Homo sapiens: one gene and its partners. The protein of the gene in region 3 purifies or fractionates together with the protein of the main gene of each other region. This does not show direct contact. Each region holds a gene or a part of one and is shown on either strand. Other genes may lie near its edges.

Region 1 (7,027 bases), on a different chromosome or scaffold from region 3:
TCCTAATCTTTTTGTGCCCAAATGTATGAGATATTGGTAGACTACATCAGTTTTCACAGATACCTCTTTCCTTGAAGGAAATGAGGGTAAAATACCCCATTTTGAGTCAGTTATGTGTACTTTGTACCATATTTTCTGTTCACATTTAAAATTATACAGCTATGTCTCAAGGATGAAAAAAGAGTTTTACTTATTTTTACTATTAATCTCTAGTGTAGAAGTCCAGTTTTTCAGACCTATAATCAGGAGTGCATTTTTAACAATTTACCAGTTGAAATAAATGGGTTATTTCACATTGTAGGGATATTGTTTTAGACTGGCCATTAACCTTATTTTATTTTATTTTTATTTTAAAAGATGTTATTGTTATTATTTATCTATGTATTTATTTCTAGAGGCAGGGCCTCGCTCTGTGGCCCAGGCTAGGGTGCCATGGCACAATCATAGCTCACTGCAGCCTTAATCTCCTGGGCTCAAATGATCCTCTGGCCTCTCAAGTAGCTGGAACCACAGGCGCATGCCACCATGCCTAGCTACTTATTTATTAATTAATTATTATTTTTTAAATAATATTATTTTTAAGAGATGGGGTCTTGCTCTGTCACCCAGGCTGGAGTGCAGTGGCGCCATCATAACTCACTGCAGTCTCGATCTCCCAGGCTCAAGCGATCCTCCTACCTCAGCCTCCTGAGTAGCTGGGACTATAGGTGTGTGCCACCACTCCCAGCTAATTTTTAAACTTTTTGTAGAGACAGCATCGTGCTGTGCAGTGGTGCTATCTCGGCTCACTGCAACCTCCGCCTCCTGGGTTCTAGTGATTCTCTTGCTTCAGTCTCCCAAGTAGCGGGGATTACAGGTGCGCGCCACCACACTTGGTTAGTTTTTGTATTTTTGGTAGAGAAGGGGTTTTGCCATGTTGGTCAGGCTGGTATCGAACTCCTGACTGACCTCAAGTGATCCACCCTCCTCAGCCTCCCAAAGTGCTGGGATTACAGGCATGAGCCACTGTGCCAGGCCTTAAAACACCTAGTGTTAAAAATGGTGTCTTAATTGTATTCTCAGATTCTCCTAGAAAGAAAAGATATACTAAATGTATATTTAGATATACTAAAACACCTAATGTTTATTTTTGTTTATTTATTTTTGAGATGGAGTCTGGCTCTGTCACCTAGGCTGGAGTGAAATGGTCTATGTTTGTTTTTTCATCTTGACAGTAATATCTTTGAACATTTTCTGGAGTATTAGATATTATTCTCTTGATGCTTCAAGGTATCTTAACTTCACCATTGTATTGCGATATATTGTTTTGGAGAGACAGTATAATATAGGATTAAGAGTGGAGGCTAGGTGGGGCACAGTTGCTCACGCCTGTAATCCCAGCACTTTGGGAGGCCGTGGCAGGCGGATTGCTTGAGCCCAGGCGTTCGAGACCAGCCTGGGCAACATAGGGAAACCCTGTCTCTACAAAAAATACAAAAATTAGCTGAGTGTGTTGGCACGTGCCTGTAGTCCCAGCTACTCAGGAGGCTGAGGTGGAAGGATCGCTTGAGCCTGGAAGGTTGAGGCTGCAGTGAGCTGAGATCACACCACTGCACTCCACCCTGGATGAGAGAGTGACAGAGTGAGACCCTGTCTTGTCCGGAAAAAAAAAAAAAGCCTGTCTTGTCTGGCTCAGTCCAGGTGCTAGACTGTCTAGGTGGGATCCCAGCCCCTCTGCTTACTACTTGTATGACCCTGCGCAGATTTCATACTCCTCTGTGCCTCAGTTCCTTCAAATTTCTAAAATGGGGACAATAACAGTACCTGTCTCACAGGATTGTTAATGATCTAATACATGTACGGTGTCTGGCAGATAGTAAACATACAATAAAATGTAGTTACCTTTAATATTTTAATATATTATTTACTGTAAAAGTAATTTTAACATCCTATATAATAAAATTATAAATTACAGTTTTGCTGTACTATAAATTTAGTAGACTACAGGATCAATATACTAATCAATCAATACTTGCAAGCAATATTTAAATTCTTTAAAAAAATTTTTTTTGGAGACAGGGTCTTGCTCCGTAGCCCAGGCTGGAGTTGCAATGGCACGATCTCGGCTCACTGCAACCTCTGCCTCCAGGGTTCAAGCGATTCTCATGCCTCAGCCCCCCGAGTAGATGGGGTTACAGGCGTGTGCCACCACACCCGGCTAATTTATTTATTTTTAGTAGAGATGGGGTTTCGCCATGTTGGCCAGCCTGGTCTCAAACTCCTGGCCTCAGGTGATCTGTCCGCTTCAGCCTCCCAAAGTGCTGGGATTACAGGTTTGAGCTACCGCTCCCGGCCCTGCCACCACGCCCGGCACAATACTTAATTTCTAACTTACACCATAGAAAATTGGCCGGTGCGGTGGCTCACGCCTGTAATCTCAGCACTTTGGGAGGCTGAGGTGGGTAGATTGCTTGAATTCAGGAGTTCCAGACCAGCCTGGGCAACAAGGTGAAACCCCATCTCTACAAAAATTACAAAAAATAGCCAGGTGTGGTGGCATGCGCCTATAGTCCCAGCTACTGGGGAGGCTAAAGTGGGGGAATTGCTTGAGCCTGGGAGGTTGAGGCTGCAATGAGCTGAGATCATGCCACTGCAGTCCAGCCTGGGTGACAGAGTGAGACCCTGTCTCAAAAAAAAAAAAAAAAAGAAAAAAAAAGAGAAAGAAAATGGAAAACTCAGATTGAGAGGGTCCCCCAGTAGCCTATAGTACACCTACATATGCTAACATGGCATCTTAAAGCTCATTATTACAGCTGGCAAATCAAATCACTGTGATGTGCTCATCCTATTTCCCTATCAAGAAAACTCATAACAATCTGCTTCTGTAATTAGTGAGCCACAGACTCTAGGCCATCGAGATTTTCCACATTCCCTAATTGTCAAATGCTGAACCATACTTGTACTGAATAAGTTGTGATACAGTGTAAGCAAGGGAAAAGGCCTTATGTATGTCTAACCTACTCTGCAAATAGCTGCATTCTTACAAAGTTGTGTGTAAATTGAATTTTTACAAAGCATGTCAGCACTTTGATTAGTACATTTTTATTGTGTGCTTATTGCATATTCAGTGTTTCCTGTGAGCTATACAAAGAAGCATAAGGCATATGTTCCAATGTCTAGCAAGAGAAAGAAGTTTAATACCAAGCAGAGAGAAATTAGGTACTACTAAACTATGAAACTGATTCCAGGGTATTCGGAATTTAAAAAGAAAGTGGCTAGGAGTATTTGACATGATTTTTCATGAAGGAGGTGGGACTTCAGTTCATTTACTTACTCAACAGTGATTTATTGAGTAGCCACCATGTTCACTGGTGGTATGATAGTGAACAGAGCAGATATGGTCCTGTTTCTGTGGAGTTTACAGACTAGTGAAGTAATAGAACTTAAATATGTGCAAGAAAACATTCTAGGTGAGGGGACCAGTTCTAAACAAAGTCATAGAAATAAATGATAAGAGCATGGACTATATGGCAATCAGTGAAGGGACTTGCTTGATTGTAGTAGAGATTTTATGTTGGGGAGGAGCACTGCAAGTGATAGATGCAGACCATCTTTTGAATGCTTTGAAGAACTATTTAAGTCTGTCTAAAAGTCCTTTGGATACACTGTTCTGGAGAGGGTTTGGGGCTTTGGGGTCATACTGCCTTGGTTTGATCTCATCTCTACTCTAATTTGTTTAAGTTTAGAATTTTATAGTAAGTTTTCTCAGTGACACAACTCTATAGGCAACAAACTGATATTTACAGAGTGGTTGGGGTCAGTAACCCTTGTATCAGTTAAGCAATGTACACATGAAGTGCCAGTAGGAAGTCCAAGGAAAGGTTGGGAGAAATAAAAGGAGGTTAGTAAAGGAAAGAGAAATAAATACATTCTGTGATAGTTGGTAGAATGTCATCAGAAATGTCTTCAAGCAAAACAATACATTTGCCTGTCTTTTGTTTCTAGTTGCGTTTAATGGTAGTGTGTTTTCCTTGTCTAAATATGAGAAAGAGAAACTAAACTGCAGCTACTTGACGTGGGCATCTGAGAGCTACCAATGGTTGGCTTAGGTTATGTTCTACATTTGAAGCATCTGGTCAGTTTTAGATTGTCTTCTATATTTGAAGCATCTGGCTAGACCACTTGTGTCCCAGTTTTCTATTTTACCTAAACTCAACTTGGTCAGAAGCTTATGTAGTAAGTATTGTTTGTAACCTGTGTTAGTACTCTCTTAACATGGCTTAAAGCATGAATGGATTGTCAAATGAATACCTGTTATGACCTGTATTTTTTCTTGTTACCTTTGGATTTAATGTAAGTATAATAATGCTCTAAGAACATTTGACAGTATTGTTCAGGCACTTTTTTTTTTTTTTTTTTGAGACAGGGTCTGGCTTTATTGCCTAGGCTGGAGTGCAGTGGCACGATCACAGCTCACTGCAGCCTCAACCTCCTGGGCTCAAGCAATCCTCCTACTTCAGCATTCCAAGTAGATAGGACCACAGGCATGTGCCACCATGCCTGGCTAATTTTTAAAATTTTTTTTTTGTAGAGACGGGATCTTACTTTGTTGCCCAGGCTGGTCTTGAACTCCTGGGTTCAAGTGATTCTCCTGCCTCAGCCTCCCCAAAGTGCTAGGAGTACACAGGCATGAGCCATCATGCATAGCTGCTTATTCAGGTGCTTTTAAGAAATTTTTTCCACCAGAAAAGTAGAAATGATCATACCAGACTACCTTTGTCTCCTCCCAATCTTTTATTATGGTGATGTCCAACCTTGTTATAAGGAGGAGCTTCTTTTAATCTCAGAGTCATGAGATCAGGGCAGATACTGACAGTATAGTTCCTGAGAAGTAGTTGCTGGCTGTGCTGTTCTTCCTTTCCCAATGGGAATCTTAGCTGAGACATGTAGCAGAGAGAAGACATTATGGGGAGCCAGCATGGAGCTTTATAGGAGGTGAGGTGTCTAGATCTACCAGTAGATCCCGATTTGCAGGTTTGAGACTCCTACCTTATTTCATCCATGGCTGTTGCATTGTACAAATCTAGTGGGCAGCAGCCACAGTCTGTAAAAATTATGACATGGAATTACACAATGTGGCAGCCCTGGAAACTACCCAAACCACTTCTATTTCTAGTCCTGTATTCCCTTCAATACCTACTACATCCAGCAGCCGTGATAGTCCCAACACGTTTATCATTTGACTCTCTTTGCCTCCCACTTGAAGGCTCCCCTTTAATCCAACAGATAAAAATTACATCTTTGTCTAAGGATTTCAAGGTGTTGCATAAATTTTCTTATTCTATTTAAGTATACTCATCAAGAAAATGATAATAACTGCCTCGTCTAATTCATAGGTTTTTATCAGTATCAAGTGGAATAATGTATGCAAAAACTTCATAAATTAAAGAATACTACACAAATATAATATTCTTTTCAGATATATTATGTTGTGGAAAGAATACTGAATTCCAATCAGATGTCTGGCATCTCAGTTCTTTCTGCTATTAACAAACTGTGACTTTGGACAAATTACTTTGTGCTCTGGGGACTTTGTTTCCTTACCTATAAGAGGAAACTTATAATGCCACTCCTATCTACCCAGACACCTAAGAGCTACTTTTTCCTCACCTCCACATTCAGTCACCAAATTTGTTGTCTAGTTCTTAAAATTTCTTAAGTTGGTCCTGCCCTCTCTATCTCCATTCAGTTCCTAATCACTTCCCTTTTGGGCAGCAGCCTGTTAAAAAAAATTGTGGTAAAATATGCATAATATAATATTGACTATTTTAACCTTTTTTTTTGAGACGAAGTCTCACTCTGTCACCCAGGATGCAGTGCAATGGTGTGATCTCTGCTCACTGCAGCCTCCGCCTCCCAGGCTCAAGCAATTCTCCTGCCTCAGCCCCCTGAGTAGCTAAGATTACAGGCACACGCCACCCCTGGCTAATTTTTGTATTTTTAGTGGAGACGGGGTTTCACCATGTTGGCCAGGCTGGTGTCAAGCTCCTGACCTCAAATGATCCACCCGCCTTGGCCTCCCAAAGTGCTGGGATTACAGGCGTGAGCCACTGTGTCCGGCCCCATTTTAACCATTTTTAAAGGTACAAGTCAGTGGCATTGAGTGCATTCTCAGTGTTGTACAATCATCACTGTTATGCATTTCCAGATTTTTTTCATCATCCCAAACTGAAACTCTGTACCCATTAAATAATAGCTTCTCATTCTGCCTTCTCTCACCCCCTGGTAACCTCATTCTACTTTCTGTCTCTATGAATTTACCTATTCTAGGTACTTTTTGAAAAATAATTTCAACATTTATTTTTGATTCAGAGGGTACATTTGCAGGTTTGTTACCTGGCTATATTGCATGATGCTGAGGTTGGGGTACAATTGATCCTGGCAATCAGGTACAGAGCAGAGTGCACAATAGTTTTTCAACCCTTGCCCCACTCCCTCCCCACCCAGTAGTCCGCAGTATCTATTGTTGCCATCTTTATGTCTATGAGTACCCATTTTTTTTTTTTTTGAGACGGAATCTCGCTCTGTCGCCCAGGCTGGAGTGCAGTGGTGTGATCTCGGCTCACTGCAAGCTCTGCCTCTCGGGTTCATGCCATTCTCCTGTCTCAGCCTCCCGAGTAGCTGGGACTACAGGTGCCCGCCACCACGCCTGGCTAATTTTTTTTGTATTTTTAGTAGAGACTGGGTTTCAACATGTTAGCCAGGATGGTCTTGATCTCCTGACCTCGTGATCCGCCCACCTCGGCCTCCCAAAGTGCTGGGATTACAGGCGTGAGCCACCGCGCCCGGCTGAGTACCCATTGTTTAGCTACCACTTATAAGTGAGAACGTGTGGTATTTGGTTTTCTGGTCTGCGTTAGTTTGCTTAGGATAATGGCCTCCAGCTGATTCCATGTTGCTGCAAAGGACATGATTTTGGTCTTTTTTTAATGGCTGCATAGTATTCCATGGTGTATATGTACCACATTTTCTTTATCCAATCCACCAT
Region 2 (7,027 bases), on a different chromosome or scaffold from region 3:
AGGCAAATAATAAAAGCTATTAATTATAATGAGGAGAATTGAAGGCAATCTCAGGTCATGGCAGATCAAATATCCACCATTGGCAAGAGGAAAAAAAGACCCTCTCTCACTTCTTACTCACATCTGTGACTTGATCTATGGTAATAACATGACTATTTGTCATCAAACACAGAGGTTAACATTGGCGTGCACACACACATCCCTGCTGGAAGCAAGCCGTGCTGGGTTTTAAATGAACCTGCACTGTATTTATTTACCCTGCTGTCTTATTTCCTGGGTAGAAAGTTTAATTAATACTTCACCCAGAAATAATCCACACAAGAAATAGCTTCACTGGGAGTAAAAGTCATAACAATAGCTTTCTTACTGCATTTTCTTTCTCTTCAATGGAAATCTCACCCTCCTCCTTTCTGTCCCAGTGATGAATGTGGAGTCAATAAAATAAACCACAAAGAACAAGAAAAAAGTTGGAAAACATCCTTTCATTGCCTCTTTATCTAAGATGCTCACTGTACACCATAATTCCAGAGCACAAATTAAAGCAGGCTCTTGTCACCCTAGCAAACTGGACTGTGATGTCACACCCATTACATTCTTCTTTTTATCATGTAACAGCCAGGATGCTAGAAACAAGTTGCAACATGTGTGGTCCGCCCCACCCCCAGCACCCCGGCAGAAACCGCACCCCACTTCCCATAGCCACGTTCTTCCCCAGACCTTACCCTGCCCAAGAGGTTGTCCTGAAGTAATGTCTGCTGCAGCACTGGGGCCACCTCCTCCAAGCTCAACATGTGGCAAAGGTCGGTGAGTTCCTCCTGCCCCAGGGACCCTGTGCCCGTCGTGTCAAAACTGTCAAACAGCTCCTTGAGTCGGGCCTCATGCTGGTCCTGCTCCACCTCATCCATCCCATAGCCCACAGTGCTCACCTGTGTGTAAGACAGAGACAAGGACAGGTTGTGGCAGCCTCTCCAGTCCTACCGTGGTCACCACCTGGCACATTCCCGTTCTCTGTACCCCACCAGTCTCTAGGGAATGCTCGGGAACACCCAGTTTCTGATGCACCCCACAGCAAGACCCCCAGTCTCTGTAGGACCAGCCCTGGCCAGTGACACTCCTGCATGCACTCACATCAGGGGCATATACATAAGCTCAGATCACACTGGGAGCAAAATTACCAGAATGAGAGGGTCACGTACAGTAGAAGACACCCTCCTCTCTTGCCTGGTTCTCAGGCGGACAGCCAGACTGCCAAACTCAAGGCTGAAGGTGGTTCTCTCCCAGCTCTTCTAGCCCAGGATTTTAAGAAGGTGAAAAGCCACTTTGACAGCAAGACTATTCAAGTGAACTAATTGTTAGCGCCAGCAGACTGCATGGTCAGAGCTTCCATGCTAGCTGGCAAGCTTTAGACAACCTGCCCCGATGGTGCAATCGGTCAGCGTGGCCAAGCTGATTCGTTCTACTTCATTCAGCTTAGATGGCCCCCATCATAGCTAGACTGGAGGGCTGCAGCAAGAGGCACTAAATGAACACGACGTCTGCTACAAAACCACCTCCCTGTTTTACATGAAACTAAATGCCTTTTACACGAGTTCCTCAAAAAGCAACTCAATTAACTTCACTGGTGCAATTACATGAGGTGTGACGGGAAGAATATTCCCAGAAGCTTGCTTTAGTCCCAGCGAGTTTTAGGTAATGCTTAGTTGCCTAGAGAAAGGGGAAGACACTATTTCAACCTTTCAGACAGTGAGGTTTAAAGGAGCCACTGACTGGTTTATATGAATCATACAGCATCTCAGGGAACCTCCACTCACTAAAGCATCTCATCTCTTTATGCCTGGTTAACCTGTGTTCCGTCTCTCTCACCTACCCATACTCCAGGCTTTCCATTTTGCCACTGTCCTTAGGATCAGTAAAAACTTGGAGACGTCAATAACTGAGTCATTTTTGTTAAAAATATACATCATAAAATTCCAGGTAGCTCGTATTTTACTAATGAAATCTGTGGTTTTTTTTTTTTCCTTGCATGACAGTTCATTTTTAACGTGCTGGATTTTCCGATGAAAGCCTGAAACCTGCACATCTGAAGATGCCTTCGCCATGATGCAATGGATGCCAAACACGACATACACCCTTGGGACGGTGACCTCAGCCATCTGCAACAAGGCTCTCAGAACCAGTCCTTTGACTATAAAAAAAGCAGCAGCTTTCACTAACCAAGCATCTTTAATCCAAGCCAAATTACAGAACTCTCTAACTTAGAGGTGATCGTCCATACGGCAGATCATTACAACATGAAAAACGTAAGCTAAGATGTTGAACACAGCCAGAACTGAAAATAAAAGAGCTTTCTAAAACAAATCAATGTTGCTCTAGGTTGTGTTTGCTTTCTTTCCATAGACAGCTGTTCAAAACATGACAAGCTACAACAGGGCCACGATCTTGCCAGGGGTTTCAGCAGAACTGGGTGGACACAGAAGATAAATGTGAACAGCTCTGCCATACAGCTCAGTTTTTACTGGGGCCACTCATTAAAGTAAAGCAACATGGCACAATTTTGGTCCAGGTTCCTGGTCTTGGACAGGTCTCTTCTCCTAATTATCAGTTTTTCTGTTACTAAGGTGCTGCAGGCTCTGGCTGTCTTCCCAGGATTGGTCTGTTGGGTTAACTAATCACTATGTAAATGTTTTCAAAATAAGTTGAGAGTGTTATATAAACATCAAAGCCTCAGAAAAGAAACACCAAGTTGTTATGCAAAGCCACAGGAGTTAAGAATTTAGACAAGGCCAACACTTCGCTAACAAGATTCACTTAGAGTCCACCAGTTAATTGTCAACTAAGATCTGCTGAGAATCCCCAAGGTGCTCCAGGATTTTCAGTGTTGCGGTAGCTCTTAGTCTCACTCTGAGTTTTACAGTCCCCTGGGCTGTTATCTGACCGACCTCATAAAAGCAAGACTCTTCTTTTGCTTGATTTTGCATATATGTTTAAAAACTCAAAAGCGAAAGAATTCTAACACTTCCCTTTTTAAAAATTATTTTTAAGGGGCGGGGATTTGTCCATCTTAAACCAATGAAAGAGAGGAATAAAACACTGATGTACTGAGAAGCCCTGATCTTATCCACGGTGTCGAATTTGATATACTATCATGCCCCACTCTTTGGGAGGTCATTGGATTTTCACTAAATCAAACCTCTTTCATTTTATGGCAGCTTTCTTTTCTTTATCTCTTTATTTCATCTCCTTCCTTCTCAAAACACTGTGCTTGACTGAAGGGGAGACAAGCACCACCCCTGTGGAACAAATGCTCACGCTGAAACATCCAGGAGATGTTACGCATGGTGACAAGTTGTCAGTGCTCATCTGGCACAGAAGGCATTTTTACTGGTTGATATTATTTCCCAAATGTTCATCAGTAATTTCATGTGCAAGAATTTTTTTCTCCCCACTTGGCAGAAAGTTCTTTAATGGTAAGATCCACGCTCCTATTTCTTTTATATCTTCCCCCAAATGCATACTACAGTCAGTCTGTTCTTCAAGCCAGGGATTTGGTAAATATCATGGATTGACTTCCTGTATGGATCACTCCTTGAGAGGAAACGTACCCTAAATGAGGTCTACAGAAATGGGCATATGAAAATTTTGGAATGCCCATCTCATCCACCTACACACCTCCACTTCCCCCATCCCACCCTTTCTCAAAGGCATTTTCAGCCTCCTAAGCAAGAAGTAGAAAGCCAACACCAACTGCCAATCTGTAACATGCAGCGCTGTCTGAAGTTTAATTCAATAGGCTAGTAATTAAGTAAATGGATTCACAAACTTCGACTGCATTGTCTTGCTATGGGATGAAACTTTGGAGGAGAATCTATACTAAAACCTTTCTCAAGTCCCCTCGATTACAGCATGAGAATAACAATATCCATCTGGAAGGTTTGTTCTGAGAGTTAAATGTGGCAAGCAAGCGAGAGTGGCTAATTCCAGAGAAAGCTGATACAAGAGGGAATTTAAGATAACCAAAAGAATACCTGCAGCTACAAAGGAGTGGTAAACTGAAGAGGAGGTAACAAGTGAATTATCTACAGATCTACCTCCAAAGAAGCAAAGCAGGAGATGTGAAATGCTATAGAACAGACTGAGAATGGGCAGGGAGTGTACTATGTATATAAACATCATTATATAACTAAATGATAATGGCAGCAGGTAATGTTCAGAGCTTCCTCTATCTTTAAAAGCAGGTTATTGATAAATTTAATGTCAAATAAAAGCAGAAAGCTGCACTGTAACTGGGAATTACTTCTGAACATTTACTATGAGTCTGGCCTAAACTAAGTACTTTATGTATATCATCTCATTTAATCCTCCCAAATCTTAGAAGTGGATCTTCTCATTTTCCCACGCAAGATGTAGAAATTGGGGCTTGGCAAAATTAAGCCACTGTCCAAGGAGACAGCATTAATCTCCTTGAACAAAATGGGGGTGGAGCCAAGATTTGCACTCTAGTGTGACACTGAATTATATTATCCCTCAATCCTACACATGCACACAGAACACATGAATGAGACCTCTGAAATGATGCCATTGGCAAACCACTTATCTCCACCTTTATGTGTTAGCCAGTTGAACAGTACTAAGCAGTAGAAATCCCCACACAACACTCCATGGCCACAAACTTTTCCAAATTGGAATTGAGAAGCAGAGTTCCTTCCTTCCTACCTCCCTTGATCCATTTATTGAATAATTATAGCCTACAAGGCACCAGGGATATACAGATAGAATACACATTCCCTTTTTTTTCTAAAGCAGCTTTGGGATTTAGGGCATGAAAGAAAGAAATTCTTATATAAAAATGATCATGAAGTGTCCCATGTCTTCAATAATGGGCATTGCCCAGGAATTGGTAATTCGTAAATGACTTCCCCTGAATAAACACTTAAGTATGTATAATCTGTGCAATCCAGTGCTTTTCAGGGTCAGATCCTAACTGGTACCCACCAGAGGCAGGAGTCTTACTCAGAGATTAAGAAAGTTACATTTTGAGCGAGAAATTCTACTTCAAATTGCAAAGAAGAGCTCCAGTGTTACGAAGCCTGCCATAATAAACCTGGGCCTCTCCTCACCATCTACCTTTCCAGTCAAATTGTCAGAAGGCTTTATGACTCTTTCGGAATGAAAGAACCAGTATGGGCAATATTTTGGAGTTCTAACTGGGGATGGTTAAATAAGAAGCAGATGCACAGAACCATTAATCAAAACATTTACCACTCAATAACCACCCATAATGACAATTATTCTGAGCATTTTCCTTCCAAATAACTCAAAATAAGGCTGCCAAAATGCTGCCGACTCTGACAGTGGTGTTCATTACCCCAGCTGATGAAATCACAGTGCCAAATAGGACTGCAAACTAAATAGGTGGAGGTGTGGCTAGAATCATGAGTGGACATGTGGATTTATGAACTTTTCAGTGTTCAACCAAGGTACAGAAAGGAGCTTGTAACAATGACACCCCAGCTAAAGGGGACGTCTGTTCTGGGCCAGAGGGAGTGAAAAAGGGACAAAGTCTGGCGAGTGAAAAGGGGACAAAGTCTGGCAAGTGAAAACCAAGTAATAAATATGCACAATGCTAGAGCCCCTAGCCCAGGCCTTTTATTTCGCATCCAGATGGTTCAGCAGCTGAAGAGCTCTGCGGAATGTCTGCATGCCCCTCTCGGCTCAGCTGCTTTCCTTGAGAGGGCATCATAATAGATGCTTTTGGACCTGTGTGCAGACATAGCTGTTGGGGGTCCACAGACTAGGCAGTGACCACCAGTGACTCATTTACTTACTCTACAGCTGACGTGATGAACACCGACAAACCCCACTTGGGCAAAGCTCTCCATTTATGCCTTTAGCTTTCACCATTTGGCAAGTCGGAGCCTAATAACGCCAATGATCAAATTAAAGTGCTCTTTTTCTTCTTTCTTTTCTGCAAATACTTTAATTGGCTGCACAGATTTTCAGGCTCACCATATTGGACTACTTTCAGTATAAAAGGAAAGAGTGACAAGGATAAATTCAAGTTTAGTAAAAGCTCAATAGAAAAAGCAGTTGCAGCCATTTACGAGTTTATATAGGAGAATACTTCCGCCAAAAACCAGTGCTGCTTAGCAGCAAACTGATTACTGTCAGAATGCCTCCTCTCTGCTCAGTGTCTCACTTCTAGCTGGATACCAAAAGCACAACAATATCACTGTGAATGAAATCATGATACAAAAATATAACACGAAAGCTTAAATGCACAGGAAGAAAGTCACATTAAATACATTTGAAAAAATGGCTGGGAGCGGGGGCTCATGCCTGTAATCATAGCACTTTGGGAGGCTGAGGCAGGTGGATCACAAGGTCAGGAGATCGGGGCCATCCTGGCTAACACGTTGAAACCCTGTCTCTACTAAAAATACAAAAAAAAAAAAAAAAATAGCTAGGTGTGGTGGCGCACACCTGTAATCCCAGCTACTCGGGAGGCTGAGGCAGAAGTGTTGCTTGAACCTGGGAGGCAGAGGTTGCAGTGTGCCGAGATCATGCCATTGCACTCCAGCCCAGGAGAGAGCGAGAGACTCCGTATCAAAAAAAAAAAAAAAAAGAAAGAAAAAGAAAAATAACAACCTTTGTCAACTACACTATAATATTTAACTAAGGGAATCCTATCAGCGTTTATTCGAAAATGTAAGCAACCTTTATTATTTTACTATCCTGAAGGATGTAATAAACCCATGCTTTTGTTCAACCTAATAACTGGTAGATTACCCAATCAAGTAGTTAACTCAGGTTAGCTACAGGAAAAAAAAAACAAAAAACAAAAAACACAACAACAAAAAAACGCCATTAGCCTGGCACAATGTGCATTCAGTAACCTGTAATCAACTACTAAGTAAATTACAGAAGCAGAAAACAGAGCTGCATGTTTGTTACAAAAAAAAAAAAAAAGGAGAAAGCTTATAACAACTTCCACTTCTTAAGCCATATTGACTCACATTAATTTAGGATG
Region 3 (7,027 bases):
TTTCATACTAGGTGACCATGCATGAATGATATATGGAGTTAGTGGTCACACAAAAGGGAAAACTTGATTGATCATGCATAATTATAATTTATGTAAATTACTAAAATATTTAAATATTTAAAAATATATAATTAGGCCATTAATTGGCACATGCGTTAAAAAAGGAAACCTTATAAAACTTGCTTGTCTTCTGAAAGTGTATTGACAATGTGTAGGAGGGCCATTTTTTTGTTAACAAATTTTTTTTCTGGTTTAAATTCATCAGGAAGTTACAAACTTTCACTACAGTAAAAATGGAAGTAAGTAAATAGTCAATTCAATATTTATGATTAGTCAAGTATTATATAGTTAGTAATTTTAAATAAAATCATTAAAGTTTACAGATAAAGGAAACCACTTACAAGCTGCTCTGATTTTACACTGTATAACTGGATGGTCTTTGCCACATTTTTTGACACAGCTAATGTGAGGTTTGTATCAACAGCAGCAACATTTAGTTCACTGGAGAAAATGAAAACAGTTTTTAAATATTAGCAACATCATTCATCAACAAAGTAAAGAGCAAGATAAAAACTCAAACCCAATAAGCAATGTGGTTATTCTTTTTATAGATTTCACTGCTTCCAAGAACTGGTTGCATTGTTTCATTTTACCCCCTAATTTCAGCACTTGGAAAAAGTACCTGGAGATGGCTTCCTTAATGACCAGTTTCTCATTAACAAAAGCATGTCATATGTGGGTTCAGTCTGTGATTAAAGGAGTAAATTGTGTACAGATTTTTAAAGTAGCACTCTTGCTAATACTGATAAAGTGCAAGCAGAGGCATTGCATATCACAGACATCTGCAAGGAAATGACAGCTCTTGAATGGAAATGATGACCTTAAAGGGACATAGGCTAAAAATATAAATTACACATGATATATAAAGATACTCAGCTTCTGTAGAAATTATGCCAATTCATGCTAGTTTCAATAGAGTAGCTTTTTAAATAATATAAAAGCATAACAGGACTATAATTACAAATTTTTAAAATTCGGATTCTTAAAGTATATTTTTGTCATGCTTCAACTTTAACATTGGATTAATTGGGGTATTTGATCTGACTGCCAAAAAAAAAAAAAAAAGTATTTTACGAAGACCATGGAAAGAACACTAGAAATTAAAAATAATATAGAAACCCATATACAGATGGAAAGCAAGAAAATTATTGTCCCTAAAGTAGTAGAGTAAATCTTACCAGATTCTCTTTTTAAAGAAGTTGAAAGTTTGAAACAATACTAGAGCATACTATGTGTAACAAAAATGCACTTTCATACAGTATTGAGACATAATTTTGTTAATGTTCACTTTTAAATTTTATTAAACACTAGCATAAGCATGATTCTTCCAGTTGTAGATTATATTTGATTATAGCATTGTCAAGTTGCACAGAGGAATGGGAGAGATTCCTCTTTAACATTTACATAAACAGGTCAAAGAGATCAAGTTACTAAGACCTATAGTCAGAAGGAAAGTCAAGGCAATTGTGGAGAGATTTAGGACCAAGATGCTGGGCAATCTAGACAATTTGTAGGTACGTTTGCAGCAAAAGATATGCTTATGTATATTATTATACATGTGGCTTTTTATTTTTATTTTTTGAGACAGGGTTTCGCTCTGTCAGCCAGGCTGGAGTGCAGTGGCGTGATGTCGGCTCACTGCAGCCTTCGCCTCCCGGATTCAAGCGATTCTGATGCCTCAGCCTCCCGAGTAGCTGGGGTTACAAGCGTGCACCACCAGGCCCAGCTAATTTTTGTATTTTTAGTAGAGATGGCGTTTCACCAGGATGGTCTGGAACTCCTGACCTCAGGTGATCCACCCACCTCCGCCTCCCAAAGTGCTGGGATTACAGGCGTGAGCCACCATGCCTGGCCACCTGTGGCTTTTTAGTCTTACTCTTCCACGCCTCAGAATCACCATCTTCAAATCTTTAAAAGAATTTAGACCTCAGTCTCATACTATTTTTTATTCCTTAAAACGTCCATCTCAAATGTACAGATCTACTATTATGACAACTTGTTAGTCATGACAGAAACTGAGATAATTTCAACTGCAAATTGGTCTGGATAACTTTTAAATAAGTGTCTAAAGCCAACAGTATATAATTACATTGTCTGCAGGCATTCAGGTGGCACCTCTGCTAGGATATCTTCCCTTTTTAGTCTTAAAAGCTGTCACATTCACTTAAAAAGCTTAAAATAGCGAACACAAGCTAATCAAAGTTATATTCCTATTTCTGCCATGAAGCACGTTCTGGAGTTTAGGATAAAAAAAAGTTAACCTGTATGTTTTAGTTTCTCAATTTATAAAATCGTTTATTATATTTGATTTCTTGTGTAACGTAAGAAATTTACTATGATACAAAGAGCTAGGTTTACTTTGCATCCTTGGCAAGATATAGAATAATTATAATAGACTGTTTTTAGACTATATTTAAGGTATTTAAATTATTTATTAATTGGAATCTCAAGTACTTACTATGTGTGCACTCATTTACTATAAAATTCTTAATTTAATTGTGGGCCTAATTACTTGAATAATTTGAAAATAAATTAAAAAGGTACTGCTATCATATATCACTAACAAATATGGCAGTCATCTTATGGCAAGCCACTATATAAAAAATACATACCTTGCTATAGTTTTAATAATACCATCAAGTTCATCAGAGGAAGGAGGATTACGACCACCCGGGGGAAAAACCAAGTTGATAGGATCGAAGAGTCGAGATAAGGATTTTGATAGATAAGCAGCCTCATAGGGTTGTAGTGAGTCTTTCAAAGCCTTTTCTGGACTGTGGAAACAAAATTTTTTAAAAACTAACTTAAATTGCACAGAGCTAAATGCTATTGTATCAGGCTGTAAATACCTTTTTAAAAAATGCACCTCCCATAAAAATGTAACTCTATATTAAGAAAAAGAAAATAATTTGTTTCACAACGTACATATTTACCAATATATTTCATAATTAAACATTCAGGACCATAGTAACCTTTTTTTTTTTGAGACGTAGTCTCACTCTGTTGTCCTGGCTGGAGTGCAACGGCGCAATCTTGGCTCACTGCAACCTCTACCTCCTGGGTTCAAGCGATTCTCCTGCCTCAGCCTCCCAAGTAGCTGGGATTACAGCTGCCCGCCACCATGCCCAGCTAATTGTTGTATTTTTAGTAGAGACAGGGTTTTGCCATGTTGGCCAGGATGGTCTCAAACTCCTGACTCCAGTGATCCACCCGCTTCGGCCTCACAAAGTGCTGGGATTACACGTGTGAGCAACCGTGCCCGGCCTATATTAACATTTTAATCTCTACGTAAGTCCCCACTATAAATGCACAATAATATGCACCAATACCTACTGTATTATCTGTTTCCTTAAACTAAAAGAATAACAGTAAAATCCTATTAATGCTAATGGGGGCTATGCCTTTACTTGTAAATCATACCTATAGAGTTATCGAAGCATATGGAAGAAAGACCAGCCTGCAGAGACCTGCTCCATTAGCTTGGCCCTTTCCATCCATAGCTGCCTCCCCAGTAAAGCTCACTGACTGAGAGGGAAGTGTACAGACTTAGGTTTTTACATTTTCCATTTTTGTGTTACTAACAAGAGTGAGACAAAATAAAAAGTATTTATGGAAGTCCTAAAATCACGTAAATACTCCCAAGTGGAGTTCTATGCTACTTTGTTTTATAATATTCTTCACAACATCAAATGTAACCTGAGAAACATTTCTTTCCTGCTTGCACTTCCCATATCTTTAATAATTCATGCTGATTTTCATTTAGCAGTCAAACTATTTGATCTTACATTTTTCTTTCGACAATTACTATCAAATGTCTATAACCATTATTTTCATGTTTCCTTACTCCTATAATTAATTGTCTTCTCACATCATCCCTGTTTACAATCCTTCCACCAGCTTTTGCATTGTCTTTTTTCTTTTATAAACAACAAATTTTCCTTCATCTAAAAAGTTAACCTTTAAAACATCTAACCTGCTCCTTCATGTATATGAAACTTGGCTTTCTCTTTTTCTCACCCTTCTGGTCCACTGATATGACCTAGAGATCAGAATGCTCTTGGCTCCAACATCATAATTCCATAGTTATCTCTTAATGTTTTCTCATTCAGTAAGTATTTCACTCAACACATATTTACTGAGAATACTACGCACCAGGCACTTTGTAAAGTGCTGGGAAGATAGAGATTAAGAGTGCTTTACAGTCTTGTGAAGAAATTGGCAGGTAAAATGCTAATTATAATAATTTCTGTAATAGATGAAGATACCAAGACCATGATGGAAGCATGAAAGAACTTAGTATCTAAATGTGTCTGAAGCAATCCTCTGTTGAAGTCCGAGCCATCTATTTAAATGTCACTATTTTTACTCATGACATCTACTGACCTCAGAAGCCTCTTCCCACTTCTGCAGAAATTTTGGCACTGAATTATAAGAACTAACACTTTCCCGTTCTCCAAATCTACCGTTAAAGATCCTTGGTAACTACAATGTCAAACATCTTTTCTAAAATATGTCCTATATTAAAAGTCTACATTTATAATAACCTTTTTTGGCTTTACTAGGGGGCTTCCAAATTTGAGTCATCACTTTGAACTGCTCCACCTCTAAGATCTTCAAGCTTAAAGGAAACTGTCTACATGCCCCACCTTCTATCTCTACTTTTCCTTCCACAAATATTAAGTCACTACAATATTTGCCAAGTATTTCCTAGGTGCAGAAATATAGTAGAGAACTTGCTTTAAAAAAAAAATTCCCGGCCGGACCTGGTGGCATGGTGGCATGTGCCTGTAATCCCAGCTACTCAGGAGACTGAGAGAGAATTGCTTGAACCCAGGAGGAAAGGGTGCAGTGAGCCAAGATCATGCCACTGCACTCCAGCCTGGGCGACACAGCAAGACTCTGTCAAGAAAAAAAAAAAAAAATTCCCTGTCTTCTTAAAGCTTACACAGTAACAGGAGAGATATACACAAAAATAAAAATTTAAAATAAGTTAAATATGGAATATGATAATGATAAGTGCTAAGAGAAAAATAAAGCAAGGAAGATAGAGAATAATGCTTAAGTCTTTTTTCCTTTTCCATCCGATTTTAGATAGGATGAGGCAAAGGAAGGCTTACTGAGGGGCCCTGAAGGAAAAGAGGGAGCTAATTGTGTAGATTTTCAGGGAAATTGCTTTCCATGAGGAAAGAACAGCAAGTACAAAGGCCCTGAGGAGAGACCATACCTGGCTGTGTTGGCCAGAGGTGCAGATCAAGTAACAGGAGGGTAGTACAAGATAATATCAGAGAAAACAGATGGACGTCATGTTAGGCTTTGCATATCTATAAGGGTGGTATATTTTACTCTAAAGAACTTGTTCTTTGACCTTATTGTAATTTATGCTACATGACCCCTTCTTGCTTCCAGCCTCCATCAGCCCACCATGTCTATAGTCATCCTTTTTCCATAGCCATCATTTCAAGGTGCTCTCATTAGCACCCTGATTTTTCCAATTCACCTTCCTTTCAAAGTTCTAAGAAAATGTTATTGAGATGTTCTCTGTATCTGCTGCTAAGCTGGCCAAGTACTTCAGAGAAAAAATGATTTCTACTGGACATTTATACAAACTTCTTTAAAATCAAGAGACCTGAAGGTCAAAGTAATAACCTAAAATTCTACTTGTGCAACTCTTCAATCTTTATAGATGACTTTTGTCTTGGTTTTACCCTAAGAGAAAACCACTGGCCGTGACCTTTCTCAACGTGGCACTTCTCTTGTTTTTTTCCCTCTTACAACTTCATCTATTCTCTGTGACTTTCTTATTATTTCAATGAAAGAGGTAACCTCACTCCTTTTTTTAAAATAAAAAATTCCCAGAATAATTTAATCTATCTCTTCTTATCCCATTCTCTTCTTACACAGATCTGATCGCTATACATGTATCACAGCATCACTCTATATATGTATAAATATTATGTGTCAGTTAAAAAAATAAAGGAAAAAGATATGTCAGCATAAAAAATATAAAGACATATCTCTAAGTAAAAAGGTTTTATTGGGGAATAACATACGAGAAGCAGGATTGCTATCTTGGACCTACAGACAGAACAGGGTGGCCTCTGGTATGTTTGGAAAACAAAAGAAAGGCTGGAGTTTATTGGGGGAAGAGGAGGTTATGCAAGTTGTTTTCAAAGACAGTTTACTGGCACTGGCAGCATCTTATATAAGAGCTGGTGAGTTCTGATTGGTGAGTGTCAGTAAATTGCAAAGTAGGACTTGCAATTTTAGTGTTATGGTTAGGCCCTTGCAGTTTGGATTGGGCTTGTGAGATAGTGTGTCAGGCAAATGTTCTTGTTTAAGTGGCTAGCTGTCCCTGTGTGACTTGTGTAGTAAGCTGCAGTTGAGAAAAATTTCTTGTGATAGTTCTTGTTATCAGGCAAATCATGTGTGACAGCTCTCCCTTCATAACCGTCCCCCAGCTCTATTTTGCCAGGCTTTGACACAAGTGACTCCATGTCGAATCTGACAACTTTCATATATATAATTTACATAGCATACCACCACTTGAATTCAATCACTGAAAGTATACAATTTGATGAATTTTGTATATTCAGAGATCTGTGCTATCATCACCACAGTCAATTTTAGAACATTTTATCACCTCAAAAAGAAATCTTGTATCTTTAACTACAACACTCCACCTTCCTCACTCCATCCCCAGGCCCAATCGATCACTAATCTACTTTGTGTTTCTATAGATTTTGCTATTCTGGATTTGCATATGAATGGGATAATATACTGTGTGTATCTGTGTATGTGTGTGTTTTACTGTCTTCTTTCACTTAGTATAATGTTTTCAAGGTTCATCCATGTTGCAGCATGTACAGTACTTCATTTCTTTTTATGGCTAATATTGTATATATTTTAATTGTAATATTTCATTGTATGAATATAGCACATTTTGTTTACCCATTTGTCTGTTGACAGA
Region 4 (7,027 bases), about 22 Mb from region 3:
ATTCTCTCTTTAAATCTTTAGAAAGTATGCGCTATTGGTAAATTTGGGTTGAGAAGACTAAATCATCCCATTTCCAAAAACCCAGATCTTCTAATATCAGACAGATCTCAATGCTGTTTTACGGCTAGAGAAAAAGCAGGTGCTGTCTGCCAGCATGCTTCTCCTTTCCCATCATTTTTCCCATTAGGGGAAGAGGTGACGAGCAAGTCACAGATCACCTGGGCTCCTAAATTGAGTAGCAGTGGAAAAAGGAGGAAACGTGAGCCTGGATATAGAAAGGCAAAGAGACTGCTGAGGTGGCCCAAATAACCTTCCCAGTCCTCCGTCTCCTGAAGGCCTTTCCCCAGGGACAGGAACTACTGAGTTTTCTGGCAGAATGTGACCAACTCCACCATCGTTAGAGACTCTTGGGCCTCTTCTCCAACATGCTTCAACACCTTTCCATTTCCCATCAGTAATCAGGAGCTGAAAGTGCTCAACAGGATAAATGATAACGGCTTGCATTTTATACACTATGGAAAAGAAAAAAAATGAATAAGGCCTTATTTATCACTACCAGGATTTACTGCTAAAAGGAAGTGAGTTAAGAGTAGTATTCTCTTCCATTTAAAGAGGGCACAATTCAACCTTCCACAATTTAATTACTGGCAGGGCATGGCGGCTCATGCCTGTAATCCCAGCACCTTGGGAGGCCGAGGCAGGTGGATCACCTGAGGTCAGGAGTTCGAGACCAGCCTGACCAACATGGCGAAACCCGGTCTCAACTAAAAATACAAAAATTAGCCAGGCACAATGGCATGTGCCTGTAGTCCCAGCTACTTGGGAGGCTGAGATAGGAGAATTGCTTGAACCCAGGAGGCGGAGGCTGCAGTGAGCTGAGATCGTGTCACTGCACACTCCAGCCTGGGCGACAGAGTGAGACTCCATTTCATAAAAAAAGAATTTAACTACTTCAAAGTCACAGAATAAATCCTAGAAGAGCCTAGGTCCTTCTCTTGCCCAATCAGCACTCTGGGCACAAGACCGTACCCCTTTATAAGACCATTTGCAATCTGACCCAGAAAACTGGCCCCTTTCTCTAGTTCCAACAATAATATTTGTGTAATGGGCCCATGTATATGTTCCCCTCCAAGAATGACTAGATATCACTACAGTTCTAATACCATTGTATAAATGTCTACATACATGGAATCATGTGTAAAACTTTCAGGGGTTCAGACTGGGATCCAAAGGTATTGATCCTACTAAGCTGTGGCTCTGGCTCAAAGTCAAGGTCAGGGCAAACAATTTTGAAGTTAGCAGCATGTGGCCCTGCCTCTGCTTCCTGCCTAGGAAGGCCATCAAGCCCTTGGGTTGGGTGCCTTCACTTTTTGCCTCTGTACCTCTTCTCTCTGGAGCAAGTGCCCAGGAGCTGTCACCTCTCTGAACGACAATTACCTTATTAGCACACTTTCCTTTGTCCTCCGGAATGGGGTGGGAGGCCTTGAGCTCTTTCAGCTCCAGCTGGCAGAGCAGGAGGTCCTGCTCCAGCTGGTCATACATGTGCTTCTGCCGCTCCAGCTCGTCCTTGCTGGCCTGGTACAGCTGCTTCATCTCCTGAAGCTGAGCGTGCGTCTCTGTGTCCTGGGCAGGGGAGGCAGGCCTGGCCATCATCCCAGGCACTCCTGCTGCTGGACTCTCTCCTCCCAGGCGGGGACTAAGGGGACCCATCTTCCCTTGTCCTTCTCAGCCCCAATTTCATCCCAGCCAGGGATAGATACCCAAGATGGACCCGTCCCTGACAGGCTTGAAACACAGACCTTCCCAGTGCAGCCTTTCCAGTTAAATAAATAAATAAATAAATATAAAAATAATTTAAAAAGAAACACAGACCTTCTGGGGCTTCCTTTTTTGGGAGGTGGGGAGGCAAAGGGACTTCCTTTTTATATGCTGCTTTTCTGATTTAAAATCAAAGGAAGCTGAGAGCCTTGTGACTCCCCGAGGTCACCTTTCTCCTAAGCACCTCTTTGGCCCCCTCACTGCCAGCTCCTCCACACTCCTACCATTCCCTCTCGTCCTCTGTGCTCTCACCCTCACACAAGATGATGCCTGGCTACATCCTCCCTCACCAGGAGCTTCTTTTACCTTCTCATTGCTCTCTTTGAAGGAGGCCACCGTATCCCTGAGGTGCTGCAGCTCTGCCTCATGGCACTGCAGCTCCTCCTGCAGCTGCTGCTGCCGTTCCAGCAGCTTTTCCTTCTCACATGTGACGTTCTGGTGCTGGAGGTGCAGCTTCTGCAGCCGGCACAGTAACTCCTATGGTAGAGGGGGCTTTGGGCAGTGCCTTTGGGCTCCTTAACCCACTCACTCTTCTGTGTGAGTCACTTGAAGACACCAACAGTCTAAGATTTGCTTCTTCCTGCCCTTCACTTCCTAATGTCCTCATATCTAATGTAGTACTCGAGCAGGGCTGGAGTTCTTTACCTGTGGTGCTGCCTATGTGGTTGCTGGAATTATTTTTAACTCACTACTCTTATCCACCTTCCCCAAAACCTCAGAAGGATGCCCTTAGCACCTAAGTTGTCCCCTCACCTCTGGTTGCTGTTACCTTCTCACTCTGGTTTTCTACAAGTGTGGATTTCATGACTTTGAGCTGCCGGAGCTCAGTCTGAAGTTGCAGCTGCATCTTCAAGAGCTCGTTCTGCTCATCCTGGCTAGTATCATATTTTTTCTGCAGGGTACAGAGTCTGGACTTCAGCTCCTCATTCTGTGGTAGGGAGGATGTGAGTAGAACAGTTACTCTCAAGAAACAGCAGGTCTTTCTACGGATCAGTTGGGTTCCTTTTCAGATGCAGACATCTTGAGGAGCTCCCACAGGTCTAGGGTTTGGTTTCTTCTGTGAGATGGACACTCAGTAATGACCACCATTTCTAGAATGCAGTGCTATATGACTTCTACAGTTGGTTTCCAGCAGACTGTGCCCAGTTGCAGGGCAAGAGTCAGCAGAGCACAGCCATACTCACTGTGCCCACCCCGGTTGAAGCAGCCCCTCCATGAGGCCCTTCTGCCCCCACCCCAGATGCCTCCCCGGGCAGTGTTTACCTGGGTGACACTGTGGGAGGTCTGAAACCGAAGCACCTCATTCTGAGCACACTTGAGCTCCCTCTGCAGCCGCCTCTGCTCCTCCTCACTGACCTGGCGATGATGCTGTAGCTCTTCCAACTCACAACACAATTCCTGACACTATGTGGGAAATGGAACAGGGAGGCTTGTTTACTACAGATACCACATATGCTCCAAGAACAAGCTTGGGGAAAGCATGGCGCTCTTTGACTGGAAGATTTACATCAGGCAAGTGAGACCCCAGAGTACTATCTCCCTCCACAGTGGATGCCTATGGAGATGTTTCTACCACAGGCTGGGAGAAGGTGAAAGAAAGACAAGAAATGTGCCTGCCTTCCCCACCCTCTGTGCCCTACCTTGTTCTTCATGCCATGCATCTGCTCTTCAGCATCCCGTAGCTGCTGCCGTAACAACTGCATTTCAGGATCAGGCTCTAAGAAATCCATTTCTGAAGTCTGAGACTCTGCTGACGTCATACTCAGTGTTTGGGACTGCAGCCATCTCTCTGTTGCTCTCTGTGTCCTGCAATTCAGAACCGCAGAGCTATGCTTGAAGGGAGTTCTGCCTGGCATCACCAGCCATGCAGGCTTTGTCCTGATACCTTCATTTTAGGCCAAAGATAGTAAGGGGCCTTCTATTGTGACTCACCGCTCAGATAAACATGCTTAAAAGACTACAGAAAGTCTCCAGCCCCTCAATCTGCAAAGGTGTGTTTGGCTCTGGGAGACCCTTAGAGTGCCAGTCCAGTTAGTTTTGAGGCTAGGCCTAGTCAAGCCCACTCCAATCTGGAAGCATTGTGCCTGCCATTAGACTGAAACAAGTCTATGCAGACAATAAAAGAATCTCTTCTGATCCACTTTAGGGCAGAGCAAACCAGAACCCAGTGCCTAGAGCAGAAGTAAACTTCAGAACTCACTCCCTCTAGTCTTGAGATAATTGGGTCGGATCCCCATGTCTGCTTGTAGGTGGTATCTGTATCCTTTGGAAACCATGGAAAGGACTGGGTCTCCAGGAGCAAAGGAACGCTCACTGCCCTGGCATCTGCCTTCAGGGAAAGCCCAAGGTAAGGCAGAGTCCTGTGGAACCCCATGACCTCTCACTCTCCAGAGACAGCTGTACCTCTCACTCTCCAGATCTGCAAGCTGCCCCGTGAGGCTGCTGTTGCTCTCCTGCAGGGCCCGGTATTCCTCATTCAGGAAATGGTAGCGTTCCCGCAGCTCCTGCAGTTCTTCTGCAGAGGACAGGCAGAGAGAGATGAGACCGGGAGGAAAGGAAAGCACTGATGACCAGCCCCCAGTTTTCCTGTCTTGAAACCTGAGAGCAGAAGGTTAAAGAGCTTCTCTTTTTCTAAAGACAGAAAAAAGGTAGAGGCTTAGAAGACAGGGCCCAGGAAATTCCACAGTGCAGTGAGTCTTTCTCCTCTTCCCAATAGCTGTCCTTCTTCTCATCTGCCCTGAAGATTTACCCTGTGTGCTCATCTTCAAAGCCTCAACCGAAGCAGACTCTTGAACTTTTAGCAATTTTTGAAAGTTTAATTAACTTTCAAATTTTTACTGTATGTAAAAACTTTCAAAAGTTTACTGTATGTAAAATTTCCATTCAACTGTTTATGATTACCTTCCAATTATGCTTTTAGTACAAAAAGCTGAGAGATGTGAACTGTCAGATGTGACTGCCAGTACCTGCCTTTCAGGCATTCTGAGTTTCCTTTTATGTTCTTTATTCCCACACCAAATACATTGGTCTGGATGTGGTAAAGAATTCTTGCCAGGTGTAGTGGCTCAAGCCTGTAATCCCAACACTTTGGGAGGCCGAGGTGGGCAGATCACTTGAGGTCAGGAGTTTGAGACCAGCCTGGCCAATATGGCAAAACCCCTGTCTCTACTAAAAATACAAAAAGTAACCAGGCGTGGCGGTGCATGCCTGTAGTCCCAGCTACTCAGGAGGTTGAAGTAGGAGAATTGCTTAAACCCTGGAGGCAGAGGTTACAGTGAGCCAAGACTGTGCCACTGCACTCCAGCCTGGGTGACAGAGTGAGACTCTGTCTCAAAAAAAAAAAAAAAAAGGAATTCTTTCTAATGGCCTTTTATCTGCTGACAGGCCCATCCTAACCAGACTCACATATCATCCTCAAGCATTAGAAGAGATCCGGTTGAAATACTCCAGCACATGTCTCTAAGCACCAGTCACCTATACCTATACTTTTTCCTTTTTGGTTTTGTTTTGTTTTGAGATAGTCTTACTCTGCCATCCAGACCAGAGTGCAGTGGCACAGTCATGGCTCACTGCATCCTTGACCTCCCTGGACTCAGGTGATCCTCCCACCTCGGCCTCCCAAGTACCTGTGACTACAGGCACACACCACCAAGCCTGGCTAATTTTTGAATTTTTTTGTAAAGATGGGGTTCCGCCACATTGCCCAGGCTGGTTTCAAATTCCTGGGCTCAAGTGATCCACCTGCCTCGGCCTCCCAAAGTGGTGGGAGTACAGGCATGAGTCACCATGCCCACTTTTAAGGCTGTGATGATACAAACACCTGTATCTGTTTTGTTGCTTCATGACTAAGAATTATGTTGGCCGGGTGCAGTGGTTTACACCTGTGATCCCAACATTTTGGAAGGCCAAGGTAGAAGGATCATTAGAGCCCAGGAGTTCGAGACCAGCCTGGGTAACAGAGCAAGACTCTGTGTCCACTAGCAAAAAATTGAAAAAGAATTATGTCTCTTAGAACATTAATTCTACTGATATTTAAAGAACACTAACTTGCTCTAATTAGAACACAAGACCTATCTTACCTGCTGGAAGATTCAACACCCTAAAAGTAACTTCTAATGTTTCCTCTTAATTCTAATCAGAATTCCTTAGAATACTGCAGATTACCATATAAGGGAGGAAGGAAACTAATCTTTAATGAAAACTAACCATGCGCTAAGCATTAGACTTGATAGTTTCAGCCTCAGATTTGGTAAGTGTGCAAGTGATTTCAACATGCTTCACATTTCATTTAATTCCCAAAATAGCTCTGTAAGGTTTTTTTCTTCTTTAAATAAACTTTGAATTTTAGAATAGTTTTAGATTTACAAAAAAGTTGCAAAGGTAGTACGGAGTTTCCTGGGAGGGTTCTCACCCAATTTCCCTAATTGTCAACATCTTACATTACCATGATATACCTGTCATGACTAAGGAATCAAATATTGATACATTACTATTAACTAAACTCCATAGTTTACTTGGATTTCTCTACATTTTCCCTAAGGTCCTTTTCCTGTTTCAGGATCCCATCTAGCTATAAGGTTTTATTAACCAATTTTGATTTCATATCCTGGATATAGAAACAGGCTCAGAGAAAGACCATAACCAGACCTCCTACGTTCATCCTGCTAATTAGTGGAGCTGAGATACTGAACTCAGGTCTGTTTGACTCCAGCCCAAGCCTTCCCACTGTGCCAACCTTCTTCTCCCAGCACCATTTAATCTAAAGGCTCTTCTGAGAGGCTTGATACAGCTGGAAAAACTTGCAGTTCTTTGATTCCTTGTTGATTGCCTCTGCTTGACCTGGCCAAATATAGGACCTCCATTATACTCAGATTATAAATCTAGCCTCAGAATAAAGGCAAACTCTCTGATGTCATGAATCCTAGCAACTAGCTGGGAGACTCACTGTCTGAAAGCAGGGCTCTAGGCTTTTGGGTACCTCATGTATCACTCAGAATAACTTTTCTTCTCTAGCTGTCTTTTGTTCCGATTTGTTGCCCCCCAAAGCTTCTATTTTGAGGAGAGCTAATGGAACCTAAGAATTAGCATCCCTGCACCTGGAAGCAGGGCCAGAGGCCCCCTATAAAGCATTCCAGGCAAAGCACCATGATGCCAGGGCAGCAGGAAGAGTTTCCCAAGGTGACAGGTCCCTCTTTGCCCATCCTAGAGC

The links.
Region 1: the proteins of COG5 (region 3) and ATP7A purify together in Homo sapiens (affinity purification with mass spectrometry; 2 studies listed by BioGRID and IntAct, with this or other methods). This does not show direct contact.
Region 2: the proteins of COG5 (region 3) and NIN purify together in Homo sapiens (affinity purification with mass spectrometry; 2 studies listed by BioGRID and IntAct, with this or other methods). This does not show direct contact.
Region 4: the proteins of COG5 (region 3) and CCDC136 purify together in Homo sapiens (affinity purification with mass spectrometry; 2 studies listed by BioGRID and IntAct, with this or other methods). This does not show direct contact.

Annotation. Positions count from the first base shown.
Region 1 is NC_000023.11:77,913,687-77,920,713, forward strand, and holds part of ATP7A (copper-transporting ATPase 1), read left to right. Parts: intron 1-7,027. UniProt on the Homo sapiens protein: ATP-driven copper (Cu(+)) ion pump that plays an important role in intracellular copper ion homeostasis.
Region 2 is NC_000014.9:50,821,152-50,828,178, forward strand, and holds part of NIN (ninein), read right to left. Parts: intron 2,359-7,027; exon of another isoform or gene 2,031-2,358; intron 927-2,030; 5' UTR 906-926; coding exon 723-905; exon of another isoform or gene 646-722; intron 1-645. UniProt on the Homo sapiens protein: Centrosomal protein required in the positioning and anchorage of the microtubule minus-end in epithelial cells. May also act as a centrosome maturation factor.
Region 3 is NC_000007.14:107,280,899-107,287,925, forward strand, and holds part of COG5 (conserved oligomeric Golgi complex subunit 5), read right to left. Parts: intron 2,835-7,027; coding exon 2,673-2,834; intron 502-2,672; coding exon 402-501; intron 1-401.
Region 4 is NC_000007.14:128,801,956-128,808,982, reverse strand, and holds part of CCDC136 (coiled-coil domain-containing protein 136), read right to left. Parts: intron 4,334-7,027; coding exon 4,222-4,333; intron 3,625-4,221; coding exon 3,459-3,624; intron 3,223-3,458; coding exon 3,082-3,222; intron 2,747-3,081; coding exon 2,588-2,746; intron 2,296-2,587; coding exon 2,125-2,295; intron 1,624-2,124; coding exon 1,438-1,623; intron 448-1,437; exon of another isoform or gene 219-447; intron 1-218. UniProt on the Homo sapiens protein: May play a role in acrosome formation in spermatogenesis and in fertilization.